Regions from separate parts of the Homo sapiens genome. Here region 2 is linked to region 1. A link means that fine-mapping ties the variant in region 1 to the expression of a gene that starts in the linked region. Tissue or cell type: testis. Region 1 holds a variant in brackets; the other region holds the start of a gene. All regions are shown on one strand. Distances are from middle to middle.

The links. PIP is the estimated chance that this variant, and not a neighbour inherited with it, causes the effect.
Region 2: ARHGAP6 starts here. The variant in region 1 is fine-mapped to the expression of ARHGAP6 in testis (GTEx, PIP above 0.99). The same link has a PIP of 0.9 or more in tibial nerve.

What each region holds. Positions count from the first base shown.
Region 1 is chrX:11,460,219-11,468,326 of GRCh38, reverse strand. The region is part of intron 1 of ARHGAP6 (Rho GTPase activating protein 6); the gene reads left to right. Among named protein-coding and RNA genes, the nearest start is that of MIR548AX, 150 kb to the right of the region's middle. RefSeq lists a cis regulatory region at 6,039-6,049 and an enhancer at 5,972-6,116. The variant G/A (reference allele first, on the strand shown) is at 3,813.
Region 2 is chrX:11,662,535-11,670,642 of GRCh38, reverse strand. It overlaps ARHGAP6 (Rho GTPase activating protein 6), which reads left to right and starts at 4,723. Exons shown (of 13, transcript NM_013427.3): 1 at 4,723-6,402. The coding sequence starts at 5,815.

The sequences.
Region 1 (8,108 bases):
CTGATTCAGCTATGCTTAATCTACCTTTGAAACTGTTCGTTGAGTTTCATTTTTGTTTCATTTCTTATTATATTGAAATGTATACACACAAAAGTATACAAATTATAAATGTACAGCTTCATGAATTTGCACCAAGTAATAACAGTCATATAACTAGCACCCTGATCAAGAAATAGAACATCATTGGAATCCTACAAACCTCCCTTGTGCCCAATCATGATCTCCAACCCACCATCTCCAAAGGTTGCTAATATTCTGACCTCTACCACCATCAGTTAGCTTTGGCCATTTATTTATTTATTTATTTATTTATTTATTTATTTATTTATTTATTCATTCATTCATTTAAGACAGAGTCTTGTTCTGTTGCCCAGGCTGGAGTGCAGTGGCACAATCTTAGCTCACTGCAACCTCTGCCTCTCGGGCTCAAGTGATTCTCCTGCCTCAGCCTCCTGAGTAGCTGGAACTACAGGTGCATGCTACCAAGCCTGGCGAATTTTTGTATTTTTAGTAGAGATGGGGTTTTGCCATGTTGGCCAGGCTGGTCTCAAATTCCTGGGCTCAAGCGATTCACCCATCTTGGCTTCCCAAATTGCTTGGATTACAGGCATGAGCCACTGTGTCTCACCAGCTTTGGCCATTTTTGTACTTTATATAAATGGATATCTACAGTGTACCCTTTTGTGTCTGATTCTTTGCTTATCGTTATATTTGTGAGTTTCAGCCTCAGTGTTGCATTCATCTGTAGTCCATTGCTCCTTGTTGCTTTGTGGCATTTCATTCTATGTATATACCATAATATATCCATTCTACTGTGATTTGTGTTAAGAGTTGTTTTCACTTGCAAAGTTTAAGGTAGGAAATTTTCCTGCCTTTGGTTGAGAGAGGGCTGTTCTCCCTTACCATAAAGATACATCCTTTTTAGAGACCCAGAGTGTTTTTTTTTGTTTGTTTGTTTTGAGACAGGGTCTTGCTCTGTTGCCCAGGCTGGAGTGCAGTGAGCCATGATTGTGGTGAGTGCTACCACATCCAGCTAATTTTTAAATATTTCGTGGAAATGGGGTCTCATCATGTTGCCCAGGCTGGTCTCGAACTCCTGGGATCAAGCAATCCTCCCGCCTAGGCCTCCCAAAGTGTTGGGGTTAGAGGCATGAGCCACCATGCCTGGCTGAGTCCCAGCTTTATGGGAAGGACTGTCCCATTCAACTTGTTACCATGGGCAAGCCTAGAATTCGCATTTTGTCCACTGAATCCTGTGAGGTCAGGAAAACAGAATTTAGATTCACCACATTCAACAAATGACTTCAAGGCAAGCACTGGCTGTAGGGCTGCAATGTTCTTCCTGATTATTTTGAGACATAAGTGTTCTTTACTTTTTTGTCCACTCATGCATATTTTAAATAGGGCTTTAAAATACATTATCCAACATCCCTAGTTGTTTTCTGTGGAAGGCTGGTGTGGGTATTCATTCTGCCTTACTGTAAGAAACATATATAGACATGTACTTTAAAAATGCCCCTTGTGTTTGGGTGTGGTGGCTCATGCCTGTAATATCAGAACTGGGGGAGGTTGTGGCAGGAGGATTGCTTGAGGCCAGGGATTCAAGATCAGTGTGGGCAACATAGAGAGACCTCGTCTCTACAAGAAACAAAAAATTAGCCTGGTGTGGTGGTATGTGCCCATAGTCCCAGCTACTCAGGAGGCTGAGGTGGGAGGACAGCTTGAGTCCAGGAGTTTGGGGTTACAATGAGCTATAATTGTGCCACTGCACTCCAGCCTGGGTGACAGAACAAGACTTTGTGTCTATAGAGAGAAACAAAAAGGCCCCTGGATTTGTGAAACCAATGTATCTATTATAAAATTTAAAACAAGTGAGGTGTGGTAATAGTTTTTTTTTTTTTCATATTCTTTCTCAACCTATATAAGGATACCAAAGAGGTTATAATTTTTTACCGAAGTTGTCCTCTTCTGGTTTTGTTTGTGGAGAGTAAATAGTTTATTTCAAAGGCTTAGACTTGTGTCATTTTAATATTTCCCTCACAAATCATTTTGAGTGATTCATGCACAAAATATTTTTAGGAGCTACTTTTTACATTGTTTTGAGGTAAGCCTTTATGGGTTTCCAAAGATGGTAGTACAGGAGTCAGGAGTGAAAGGAAATGTGTACTCTACAAAGAGAAATATGATCATTGACATTCAAGAGGCCCAGAAAAAGTGCTCTGCAAGTTCAAAGGAGAAGTTTACTTCCTTTTGAGTGGATCAGGAAAGTCTCTGTGTAGGAAAAGACATCTGAACTGGGCCTCGGAAGATGGGCAGGGTTAACTGTTCTCATGGAGGAGGAGGAAGAGGAAGAGGAGGAGGAGAAGGAAGAGGAGGAGGAGGAAGAGGAGGAGGAGGAGGAGACATACTCGTCTGCATGAGTTCAGGTAGGAAAATATAGTTGAGTTTGTCTGGAAGAATGCATTCATAGATTTAGAACTGTGCTATCCAACGTGGTAGCCACTGACTACCATGTGGCTTTTGAGCACCTGACATATGGCTCATGTGACTGATGAATTCATTTTAATTTAATATAATTTGCAATGAAGTGAAATTTAAACTTTTAAAAAAGTGATGCTGTGTTCAGTTTTTGGAAAAGTTTTAAGTACGTTTGGAACAACTTGGGTATGTGAATCTATTCTTGCAATCATATATTTTATGAAGTCTAAGTCCAGATCAAGTATTTCTAATGAAAATCCACTGTCCAAATTGAGATGTGCTGTAACAATGTAAAATATCTTATTAATAATTATTTATTTACATCAATTCCATGTTGAAATACGATTTGGGATATTTGGGTTAAATGAAATATATAGTTAAAAAGTCAGTTTCAACTACTTATTTTTACATTTTTTATCTGACTACCAGAACATTTTAAACTACATATATGGCTTGTATCACATTTCTATTGGACAGTGCTACTCTACAGAGAAGGTTGAAGCATAAAATGAGAGTGTCTTGGGAACTTTAGCAAGTTACTTATCTTCTCTGAGCCTAAGTTTCCTTATCTCCTGTGGTTTTTGCTTCATACAAGTATTGAGAGGGCAAAATTAGAGTTGCACGCAAAGCCCATGTTAACACAGTAACAACGGGCTCAATAATTGGGTATCATTATTCTTTTATTTAAAGGGATAAAAAGGTAGACAAGTAAGTTCTGTAGAAAAGGGAAGGGACAGTGAGAGTATCTGATTTATAAAGTATGTAATGGCATGGGCAGTTATAAGGATCATAGACCCGAAGATCAGTGAGTAATGAGTGATGCGTGGCGACCTGGCAAACAAGATTAAGAAAGCTGAAAGATAACAGATGAACCGTGAGGGATGAAGGTGGTGCAGTCAGAAGATTGTTCTAGGCTTGGAAGCCGGTTCTGACTTTGCCGTGGATAGATGGGGAAGCCAGCTCACTTACTATGTCTCTTTGTAGCATCTGAAGAATGACATGGCCAGACCAGGTGGCCACCCAGATTACTTTAGGGCCAGGTATTTAACTTGGTAGAAGAAATGGAAGACAAATTTTTCATAAATGTTGGTGTTGCTCCTTACATGAAGCTCATTATAGTTAAGGAAACAGAAGCATTTTATCTAAAGGTAGGTCTAAGGAACTTGTGATGACGTATTGAAGAAAATGAGCAGTGAAAACAAAGAGGAATAAAGTCTTGAAAGAAGAGATTGGCACATTCTTTAGCTTTGCAGTTGAACTTGCTTGGCAATTACTGGAGATAAGGAAAAGAAGAAGGGTTTGGCCAAGGTTTGTTAATCTTTATAAACAGGCAG[G/A]AACATCCTGTGCCTTTTCCCCTGTAATTACAGTTTATGAATATTTGTTTGAGTGTTAGGATACTTTTTTCTTTGCCTTTTGATACATCCTTGTGTGTACTCCTTGTTTATCTGTGACTTAGTTTCAGTTTTCATGTCTATGTGCTTCAGAAAGTCAGAAAAATTAATCATATGAGCTTAAAATGCCGATCAAGAAAAGCTCAGCAAGATACATTGTATTGAATGCAGTGATTTCTTTTAAAATAAAATATTAAATAATTTCTGCTTACCTGGAGGTAAGGGAATAGCTTTGTAAATATTCCTTTTTTGGAGAAAGTTCCACTGTGGTTTATATTCAGCCACAAAGAGGGCATGCTTCTTATATTATATCTCAAGGTGGAATTCATTTTGCATGTAAACAATGTGTAGATGAGGATGAGGTTTAGCCGCATCTATCCAAAAACTCAAAGTAACCATAGCTGAAAAAGATAGGAAGTTATTATTTTCTGATTTAGATGAGACTGGAATAGTGACTTCACATTTACCTGGGACCCAGGTTTCTTCAAGCTCCCTCCTCCATCTTCCTAGCACATGTCTTTCTTCTGAAGGGCATTTCATGGTTTAAGATGGCTGTTGCTTTGGCAGCCAACTACGAAGCAGTTGACTTATAATTGAAGGCCATGTTGTATTTAAAGAATGTATGACTTCGAACACTAAATGCGGTTCATAGTTTAGCTTAGTGAGGTGCTGTCTGTGGGAAGCACGCAAAGACAGACACCGACTGAACAGGCAGTTGTGATGACTTTAATGGAATCACATTTTCAAAGTTATGTGCACTCCCAGGGGGACACACTCATGAGTGCAATGTAGCATGTAATCAAATGTTTGAATTACAGGCTGGGTTCAGTGGCTCACACCTGTAATCCCAGCACTTTGAGAGGCCAAGGCAAAGGGATTTCTTGAGTCCAGGAGTTCATGACACCAGCCTGGGTAAGATAATGAGACCCCATCTCTACAAAAAATCAAAAAGTTAGCCAGGTATGGTGGTTAGTGCCTGTAGTCCCAGCTACTTGGAAGGCTGAGGCAGGAGGATCACTTGAGCCCAGAAGTTTGAGGCTACAGTGAGCCATGATCGTGCCACTGCACTCCAGCCTGGGTGACAGAGTGAGACCCTGTATCAACAAACAAACAAATGAAAGAACAACAACAACAACAGAAAACCACAATAGTTGAATTATGTTTTTTCATAGGCATTCTCCCATTTTTCCCTCCATCCTCCCTCTCCACACGCCCCACCCACACCTTTTCCAGAACACCCATAGTTGAATTCAAGGTAGATATATTTGCACGTTACGTAACTTCACTGTATAGTGAGGTCTCCCTACTCCTCCAACACCACCTTCCACTCTGCTCAGGTGATCTTTGGATCCTGCAGTTCTGTACTGGATGCAGAAAGAGAGAAATCCACCAATGCTAATGGGAGACACCTAAAAGGAATCATAAAGTAAAAAGATGGATACCCAGATTTCTGGCTGGGACAGACTGCATTTCTCAGCCATGGGGCAGACTGCAAGAGGAGAGATACAAGAATACACTCAAGTACTTTCAAGGGTCTCGCCACTACCTTTTAAAAGCCATTTCAGTCAGCCATGCAGTTAGTGGAAACGCCTGTGACAGTCTAGCAAAGTGCTGGCAGAGGTCCAGTTTTTGCTCACACTTTTTAGCTTTGATGGTGTCACCATAGGTATTTGAGTTTAAAAGTTGGAAGCAAATGCATCATAGAATCCTTACCACACAACATTATAAATTTGAATCCCATGCAGGTAAAGCCTTTATATTGGATTTGAGGGATGAAATGGCTGCTTTCTAAGATTTGGAGAATCAGAATGTTATCCCAAATCTCATTATAAAAATCAAATTAATCGATTTGGAGTGAATTGTCAAACACAGCACGATGGTAATGTTTTCTTTCTTGATTGAGTCATTAAACTACAAAATCGCTGCTATGTTTCTATTCTGTTATTCCTTAACCACAGCTGAAATAAATTTGGAAAGTGTTTTCAGACAGTTGGGATGGAGGAAACACAAGGACGCCATTACTACACTGTACAAACAATGCAAAGGTCGCTTTCCCACATCATCCCAAGGCTTGCTGTTAATCTGGGACAAACACAGTTAGATATTTTTTGATGGAGAGGGCATTGTCGTGGGTGGAGAAGAGATGAGGCAGTTCCCTTCGACCCAGCTGTGACTCAGCTCAGGTCACAACTTGTGGCCTTAAATCTCAAAGAGAATTAGATGTGTGTGATTTCACAAGTTGGACTTTCTTTTATTGAACCTATTTCTAAAGCACAAGAAGGAAATGTGCAGCCTACCGTGCATTAAAAGGCCAGTAGACACTCTTACTATCTGTATCCCCTGGTTCCTTTTGTGTCTCATAAATAAAATATCTCTACAAAAATATGGAAAATATCCTCGCTCTAAATTAGGAAAGCAGCCTTGCTTTAATTTCCTTCTCTGCAAGTTGGCAGCTGGGTAAAAGAAAATATTTTGACTTCCAGAGATGCTATTGTCCCTCCTTCAGCCTCCCTCCTAGCCCTGGGCTTCAGGCAGTCTGCAGGGTGTTCTTTCTGGCCAGTCTCTGGTCAGATCTGATATGCTTCTTCTTGAGAGAGGCCCCTGTTTCTCAGCCAGCAGAGGCTGCAGTGGGGAAGAGTTGCTGCCTGCAGGAAGTCTAAAGTCCAGTCACATCTTTCAGCTCCATCCTTAGCCTACAAGATAGGAATGTGGTTTCCTTGATAATGTTCTGCTGAACTGTCTTGTACACAAGATAATGTTTGCTTCATCATCCCTGAAATATGTTTCCAAAGCTTCGTTGTGATGGTCAAGAAGCAGTCCGTACCTTGGAGAGAGGCCCGGGGAATGAAATTCAGAGAGACAAGTATGTCAACCCCACCACCTCATTCATGTATTCATTCAGTAAACAAAGTGTCTGAGGTTCTACTGAGTGTCCAGCAAGTGTGTTAGGCACTTGGGGGATAGAAGTGACAAACACAGATAGCTCCCCCCTTTGTGTGGCTACGAGTCTAAGAGGTGACCCAGACAGCACTTTCTGTCTCTCTCACTCTCTTGCTTTTGCTCACTCTGTGTGATCTTGCCCCTCCCTATCTCTCCAATGATTTCTTCTATAACTCTTGTCCTTAGTCACCACACAACTGTCACACTGAGCTTCTTACTCTTTCGTGAACATGTCAGTAATTCCTTCCCCACAGCCTGTATACTGGCTCTTCTCTGTATATGAAAAGATTTCCACAGGGTGGGCTCCTTCTTTGTTTGTCTCTTCCCAACCAGCTTGAGTTACGTGAGATCACTTGACTGGTTTTGCAGCATGGACTGTGAATGGAAGTAGCATGTATTACTTTCTGGCCAAGAAAGTAAATGACCCTCCAGCTCTGTCTAAGCAATCTGTTAAGATGGTGGCATCTCAGTTTGGAGGACCCTCGCTCAGCTGGAGTCCATTAGTAACTACAAGAAGTAGAGCCCCCGAAAACCCACAGCATCACTGAAAAATATGTTTCCATTGCATTAAGCCAGTGAGGCTCCATGGTTAATTTGTTACCCCAGCATAACCTTACCTGACTAATAAATAAGCTCATTTGAGTGGAGTAGACACCATTATTATTCTCACTTTACAAATGAGGAAACAGGCACACAGAAGTAATAATCTACCTGTAGTCACACAGCTAGTAAACAGTAGAACTGGGATTTGAACCCAGGTAGTCTAGCTCCTAGGACTGTGGTAAACTGCACAAACAATGCAGGAGGAGGCACTTAAATATAATTAGGTCCAACCAAGGGAAGTACGGTGGAAAATTCCAGCCTGAGGAAGCTATTCTGGAGTGGTACACACAGCAGGATCTCAATAAATGTTAAATGAATGACTGGATCTTTTTAAGGAGCAGTATATTCAATTGTTTTGGCTGCATAAGAGAGTACCACCTAGTGGCTTAAAATAGCACACATACATTATCCCACAGTTTCTGTGGGTCAGGAGGCCAGGAACACCTAACTGGATCCTGCACTCAGGATCATACAGGGTCATACAAGGGTCCTATGACCCTAAGTGAACGTATCAGCCAGGGCTGCTGTCTCATCTTCAGCTCAGGATCCTCTTCCAAGCTCATGTTGATGGCAAAATCTAGCTTCTTACCATTGCAGAAATAAGATACCCTTTTCTTGCCAGCTGTCAGCCAGGGGTTGCACTGTGCTCCTAGAGTCCCCTTGAAGTTCCTTGCCATGTGACCATCTCACAGGCCC
Region 2 (8,108 bases), 200 kb before region 1:
TCAGATAAATTTAACTTATTTTGAGATTCTAAGTACACTTTCACCACAAAGATAGAACAAAGAATGCCACTAGCACACAGTGTGTGTTCAAAAATGTTTATCAACCAAAACTGAATTTGGCTTTCAGCCAATTTATATTTCTAAAAGTCTCCTGAGATCAAGATTCAAAGCCTAAAGCAAAAGGGATGATGGTCATACATTTAGGATTTGATATTGGAAGATTCGTTCACATGCCACAGGTAGAGTAACCACTGTTTGGTTCAGGAGTTGCCCCTGTGATCCTGCTGAGCACATCTACACTGCAACTTGGTTTAAGATTCTTATACAGCCTTGTTTTTCACTTGCCCTGCTAACTTGGGCAAGTGAAAATAGGATGGTTAACATTTAGAAATAGTGTACCCCGACCAGGCGTGGTGGCTCATGCCTGTAATCCCAGCACTTTGGGAGGCCGAGGCAGGAGGATCACTTGAGGCCAGGACTTTGAGACCAGGCTGGCCAACATGGTGAAAACCCATCTCTACTAAAAATACAAAAATTAGCCGGGCATGGTGGCAGGTGCCTGTGATCCCAGCTACTGAGGAGGCTGAGGAAGGAGAATCGCTTGAACCCGGGAGGTGGAGATTGCAGTGAGCCAAGATGGCGCCACTGCCCTCCAGCCTGGGCCACAGAGTGAAACTGTATTTAAAAAAAAAAAAAAAAGAAGAAAAAAATAGTGTACTCATACCTGCTCAAGAAATAAACATGTAAGCGAAAAGGCAGAAAATGTGCCTATGCCAAACTCCTGCTTTTTTAAGTCTAGAAGATAAATATTAAACACTAGAAAACATAGAACATGTTGCTAATATTTGCACAGAAAATGAGAAAATGGACAATGTTGCAAGTGGATGTTCGTGTGTTCAATGCAGATGCTGACACAGATACAGTCGTTTTCTTTTACTGAATTTAATTTTTTAAGGTCACAATTGGTGAGAAATGGCAAAATTAGGCACACAGAGTGGGGAAAAACTGGGAAAGATGAATAAGAATAGTCATTTGGGTTTCCGAATATAACGTCAGAAAAAAAAATTTCACAGGTCTGGATATCAACTAGAGGAATATTAAAACCTCAAGTGTGTACCTGGAGGGTTCATGGTTCCAATTCTGGGCTATGTGAAATTGATCCAAAATATTGAGCCAAAAACCTTGCCTGTTGGTATATAAATGTAATAGAAGACAAAAATTTCCTGTACTCAAAGACTCTAGGTTTACCTCCACTGACGTTTGTCGATTGTAATTTAAGTGCTTTGGCAGCTGGCATAGGAATCTAAAGAAACATTTTTAGTTCAGGCATGGGGAAGTTGGGCTATTTAATGCAATTTGCATTCTTAAGCCTTGTAAAATTTCTCCACATATCTCTCATGTATTCCATGCATGTCACACAGATTTAAATGATGCTTCTTTTTCATGTTTCAGGAGCTTGGAGACAGAACCCGGACTTTTATGGGCAAGTGAGATGCTGTGAACTGTTTACCCACTAAGAACATAGAAATGATATCGGGGGATCATGATCAGTTTGAGAGACATGGGCAGGATGAAATGAAAATCAACAATGCTAAAAGTTGGGAGCCAATCAGATAGAAGTCTGAAATATTATATGACACTCAATCAGAAAGTTCAGTGTGATTTGAGACTGTTTAAGCAATGGGATTATATAACAAACAAGAGCAAAATAGGATGCCCTAACCTGGAATATTGGACCTCAGGACTGAAAAACAAAAGCAACTGGAGGGAGTCCAGAAAAGATCATCTACAGTGATGGTTTTAAAGCAAAATATGAACTTTATAGTGTAGCCAAACCACAGAGTCAGACCCAAAGGGCATGATAAAAATCTACAAATAGCTTTGGGGTCTAAACACCAAGGATAAAGAGGAATTTTGGCTGGAGATATGAAAAGCTTCAAGGGATAAAGTTAAGGAAAAGGAAATTTAGGTTAAGCATCAGAATATATCCTTTGATAGTAAGATGTGTGTGTTTGTAGAACAGTCTCTCAAGGGAATAGAAAGAATACTGATGAGTTTTCTAGGATCTCTGATAAGAGGATAGCTTGATGTCAGTCCAAGGATTCTAGAACTTCCATTGGAATATTCTTGTGCCATGACCAGATGGAATAGATAGCATAAGATGTTTTTTAAATCCTAGATGTCTACAATAATTATCATTGGGAATGAATAGTGAACAGAATGTTCTGCTCTTTAATGAAAGGTATCCCAAGTCTTTGATTAACTTTGTCTCTGAGGAAAAAATTAACAAATATAGGCACTATTTTCAATATCAAATGCCCTAATAGAGAAGCAAAGCAAAGTCTTAGAAACCTGCTTTTGAAAGCATATACATTAAAACTATTTATTTCTTGACTACCAATTATAATGCTTCTGAAGCTAGCTGATGAATTGTAAGAAGGATTCTGGGAAGCAATGTAACAAAACCAGCCATTTTTTGAAATTGGTAACCAAAACCCATAGATCTTCCTTAACTGAATTTGGCATAACCTGACAGTTGATCAGAAAGGCCAATGTGAGTTGAGTCTATATAAACAAAGAGAATATATAACAAACAAGAGTTAAATAGAATGCCTTAAATAGGAATGAATGAATCCACCATAAGCCACTATGACTGCAAGGTAAACCTAATAGCAGTCAGGTTGAAAATCAAAATAGTTTTAAAAAAATCCAAAAAAATTCTTACAAAGTCTTTCTAGAAGAACATCAACATCCCCTGCCCCAGGTATTAAAAGCACACATACTTACACTGAGTTTTTAAAAGGAGCCCCAGTCTAATTTGATTAATATTTAAAACAATTTATTCACTGTTCCCAACAATGACACAAGTTTCCAGTTTCCTGGAGGGTCAGGAACACTTGGAAACTAGATGATGAATTAACTGGCATGTGTGTGTTCCAAGCCCTAGGAGTGCTAATAGAAGAATCCCTCTGCTGGTTGGCTCTCCAACACCCATGAGCAAGAATGTATGCCCTTGTGCCTGGGGGCATTCATACTAGCCTATACAGTCATGGCAGGGGTTCATTTGCTACCCCATGGTTATCATATGGGGTTAGAGAAATATATAAATCATCAAATACAATCATCAAGTTGCTCACCCCCCTTGAGTTATAAGTGATTCTGTGAAGTGACTCTGTTAACCATCTACCCCGAATGCCAAACTCCACTGAGGCATAACCATGCAATGAGGCATAACCATGCATTCGTATCCCAGTGGTAGAGACATTAAGTGTTTCCATTACCAGTGATAAATTACAGTTTTGTTACTAAAGAAAGGGCAGACAAGACCCACACACTTTTACTTCTAATGTGACTTGTATGAGGAGGGAAGAAAGCCAATGCCAACAAGCCCCCAAATGTAACTTGGCCTGGGTGTAGTTAGGCAGGGGAGCAAGAGCTCTTTTTAAACACTGTGCCTGTCAGCAGCACACCTGATTGACAGCCGCTGAAAATACTTAAGAAGCTCAGGGTGAGAAGAGATGGACAGCGATGGGGGATGGGAAACTAGAATCGAACTCTGTCTTCAGACAGCAGATAGCTCATTAAAGCTACCGGAAAAAAAATCTCTAAGGGTGCAGTCTGTTCGGCTGCGTTTACAAAAAACGAGTACAGCCAAGACCTGGGAGCCCGACGCCCTTTGTGGAGACAACGAATTCTCCTAATTAGATTTCATGACGTACCTCCTCCAAAATAGCTGAACACCTAGGAACACCAAACACGCTTTTCAAAGAGTCTAAGTAAATTAACTTTTCCCCTGAATATGTCATAGGGAATAAAGGAAGTCTTCCAGAATCAAACTTGGACAATTCTGGTAGATATGCAAGAGGAATGTTCGTGTCCAACATCTGTATTTATAATTTCATTGTATTTTTTCTCCAAAATAAAAGAAATGGTAGAGTCACCTTTACATTTATATAAAATTATCTTCATCCCTAAGTGATAAAAGAGGACACAAACACAAAGTAGACATTTCCAACATTCTGTCTGCTCCCTGCTGAGATGGTTGTAAGTTGCATTGCAAAGCTTAACTGTTACATCAAAAAGCCCTCCAAGAGGGCGAGGCTTTGCGCTTTATAGATTCCAGGGGTCCGACAGCGGGAGAAGCTGCTTTCAGACTCATCTCCTTGCCGGGAAGATTGATTTCCCCAGCGTTCTCCAGCTTCCCAGGACTGTGGCCACCGCGCTGAGACCCGAGGCGTCCCAGAGCGGGACGCGGAGACAGATCGCTTTGTGAGCGCCAATCTCTGCAGCCTCTGGGCTGAAGCTGCGCCCGGCGCCTGCCCCCTACCCGGCCTCACTCACCCCTCCTCCTAGAGCACGTTTCCGCACGTGCTCAGGACCCCTTCCACGGCAAAGGCTCCTCCCCCTCCACTTTCTTAGTAGGTCTCCATCTCCAGCTCATTCATCGGCAGCCACTGCTTTTAGACAGTTTCCTATCTATCCTTCCTTTTTAAAAACAAAAACAGCCGGGACAGGGCGGGGTGGGGGGGCGCGGGGAGAAAAGGCAGGAGATTTAACTCCAACTTCAGAGCAATCGTCCCCGGCTGCCCATCTGACACCAGTGGGTGGGGTGCAATCTGACACTTCCCTTCCTTTCCAGAAACGTGAGTGGAGCTGGCGCGACCCTTGATCTGGGGGTGGGGAGACGGGGGAGAAGGTCCGCACTTCCGTCCTCACGACTTTCTCCCCAGGAGACCCGGTATCAGTGGCGAGCTGCCTTCTCTCCTCGCCGCTTGCAGGTTTGGCGCCTGGAAAACTCTTCACGTTCTGCTTTCTCCTGCTCCTGGCTCCGCCCCAGCTCCAGCCCCGGCATTCCTCCAGCTCTACACGTCCTGGCCGCCCCCTTCCCGCTGCCTCTAGAGCGAGCGTACGGGGTCATCTCCGCGTCTGCCCTGGGCCCAAGGCTGGGCTGCGAATAGCGTGTTCCTCTCCGGCGGAACACACACACCCGGCCTTGGGGCTGTCTCCTGAGCTCCCTCCTCCACGGAGAGCGCTGAGCGCCGCCGGGAATTCCATCCCACCGTGGGCACGCAGTCTTTGGAGGTCCCGGGCGCAGCACGCTCGGTGTCCCCACACTGCAGCAAGACAGAGACCCCGCGGGAACCTTGAGCTTGGAACAACCCTTGAGCCTCTGCAGTCGGAAGAGTGGGCGCAGCAGCCCAGCGGAGGCCAGGCGCGCAACCTCGGGCGCCGGGGCAAGGAGAGAGTGCAGGGAGGCGCAGCTCAGGCGCCCGGCTCAGGAGCGGGAGGAAGTTCTCGCGGCGCCGGGAGCGCGGTGGACGCGCCCTGGGCGCACGCCCAGGCAGCCTTCTCCCTGGCCCTCGGGACTGTCCTCGGGCCGCAAGGAGGAGCTTGCTGGAGTCTTAGAGGCCATCCAGAGCCAGCGAGCAGGAGCGCTGCGTCTCCCGCCTCAGCTAGGAAGGGGGAGTGGCGCTGGCAGGCTGGAGCTGGGAACCCAGCGAGCGCCTGACCTTCCTCCTCCTCTTCCTGACCCTCTTCGCGTCTTGGGCTCCGGAGGAAGGTTCTAGCGGCTGCAGGAGGTCCCCAGACCCATTTTCCTAGAAGGCTGGTGATGGATCTGCTGCTCCTGCCGCCGCCGGGGCACTTGGAGCGCACCGGCGGCGCGTGAGCTGGGCTTTGCTCTCCACTGCCCTGGGCAAACCCCGGGCCAGCCCCGCCTGGCACCTTTGCCTGAGTCCCTTTCGGTTCCCGACCCAAAGCCACCAGCGTCCAGGGAGGGAGGAGGAGGTGGTCCTCAGGTGCAGCCCCGCCGAGATGTCCGCGCAGAGCCTGCTCCACAGCGTCTTCTCCTGTTCCTCGCCCGCTTCAAGTAGCGCGGCCTCGGCCAAGGGCTTCTCCAAGAGGAAGCTGCGCCAGACCCGCAGCCTGGACCCGGCCCTGATCGGCGGCTGCGGGAGCGACGAGGCGGGCGCGGAGGGCAGTGCGCGGGGAGCCACGGCGGGCCGCCTCTACTCCCCATCACTCCCAGCCGAGAGTCTCGGCCCTCGCTTGGCGTCCTCTTCCCGGGGTCCGCCCCCCAGGGCCACCAGGCTACCGCCTCCTGGACCTCTTTGCTCGTCCTTCTCCACACCCAGCACCCCGCAGGAGAAGTCACCATCCGGCAGCTTTCACTTTGACTATGAGGTTCCCCTGGGTCGCGGCGGCCTCAAGAAGAGCATGGCCTGGGACCTGCCTTCTGTCCTGGCCGGGCCAGCCAGTAGCCGAAGCGCTTCCAGCATCCTCTGTTCATCCGGGGGAGGCCCCAATGGCATCTTCGCTTCTCCTAGGAGGTGGCTCCAGCAGAGGAAGTTCCAGTCCCCACCCGACAGTCGCGGGCACCCCTACGTCGTGTGGAAATCCGAGGTAGGGACCAGCGCTGCGCGTCCCACGGCCCAAGGAGGAGGCCCCCAGGCAGTTTCAGGAGACCGCCTTTAATTCCATTACATTTACAGAGCAAGGCACCCACTAAGGGGTTTCCGTGGTGTGGGTTTTCCTCTTCTACTTGCTAAATGGTGCCTGGAAATGGGATGTCCCTAGTGGCCACCCGCTTGTGCGTCTTGTAGGACTTGTTGGCTCTACTTTGGAGCAGTCGTGGGAGCTGGAGAAAGAGATGGTGTTCTGGTTTTCTGTTAGTGCTGCAGGCAATTTCAAAGGGTCACCTTATCCCTTCACCCAATGTTGATATTTTTTCCAACTCAAATATCTATTGCTAAGCTGTTTGTAACGATTGGATGAAATATATTTTGAAATATGTCTGCCATCTTGTTCTGTAGAGAATTCAGAAACATTATTTTGGAGGGTGTCATTGACTGTATGAGTGAGTGTGTGTGTGTGTTTGGGTGGCAGGGGGGACAAGAATTCTCTAGTTTTCACCTTTTCTTTCCCTGAAGGGGCAATTTCAGAAATCTATGGTACTGAGTATTAGTTTAACCTAGGAGAAGAAGAAAATCTCTGTGTAGGGGTGTGAAAGATCATGGAAATATGCTGATGCCTAAATTCCATTTAGAACAATTAGTAGTTTAGTGAAGAATCAACAATACATAGGGGACTCAGAGGGAGCTATCAGATACCCTTAAAATATTTGCTGTCCAGTTAAGAAAAATAGTGAATTGACCTATTGGGAAACTGTCACTGATGGGCGCTTTGAAAATAACACACTTTCAGAGAATAGTAATTGTTTTAAAAATGAACAGCCCCTATCCCCTTCGGTCCACAAACTCTATAGGTTTGCCTTGGATCTGTTTCCATAAGGGAAGGGAGATTCCATCAGTTGTAATTTAATATTTTAAAGTACAGTTAGCATTACAGAAATGAAATGAAATACCATGTAATTGCTGGAGATTTAGGCTAAATACACAACCAAGGAAAACCGTTTGAAAATAGCATCTGAGATCATACTCAGCTGTGTTAATGTGAGATAACTGTTAGACTTTGGCTTTAGTAAACCGCCTTAGAAAAATAAGCATCATTTATCAGAATTATTAGCATCACATATTATTAATGTTAGTTACTGTGTCAAAGTAACTGAGGCTGTTAGGTGTTGGGGGTGCAGATTACAAAAAACTAACAAATTTTGCTAGGTCTTTTGCCCATTTTCTTGAGAAAGATAGGCAGTAGAAAGGAAAGTCGAGGCAGAGGGCAAGATGTTACCTCCAAACCAGGGAACTCAAGATTAGAAAGAGCATCAAAAATTGAAATGTTGAATTTCTCTTGGTCTTTAGGAGGGGCTGGATTCTCATTGTATTTCAGAAGCACACATTATCAGATTAATCTGTACAAGTTGAGAGAAAGAGAAATACAAAAGCAAGCCAGCATTTTGGATTAGCTAGCTAACATTCGTGCTTAAAACTAATTGCATCATTAAGAACATTTCTGCTTTTCTTAGCAACCATATACATACTTGGAATATAGTATACAGATGCTGCTCATTACTGTTATGACCAAAAGGCATGTGGCTGTAGATGATTTCACTTGTTGCAAATTATCTTCTTATCCATTAGCATCTCATAATTAATGGACAAGGATCTGAACTGCAGTGATACTGGGTGGCTTCTATTCCATACAGTGGG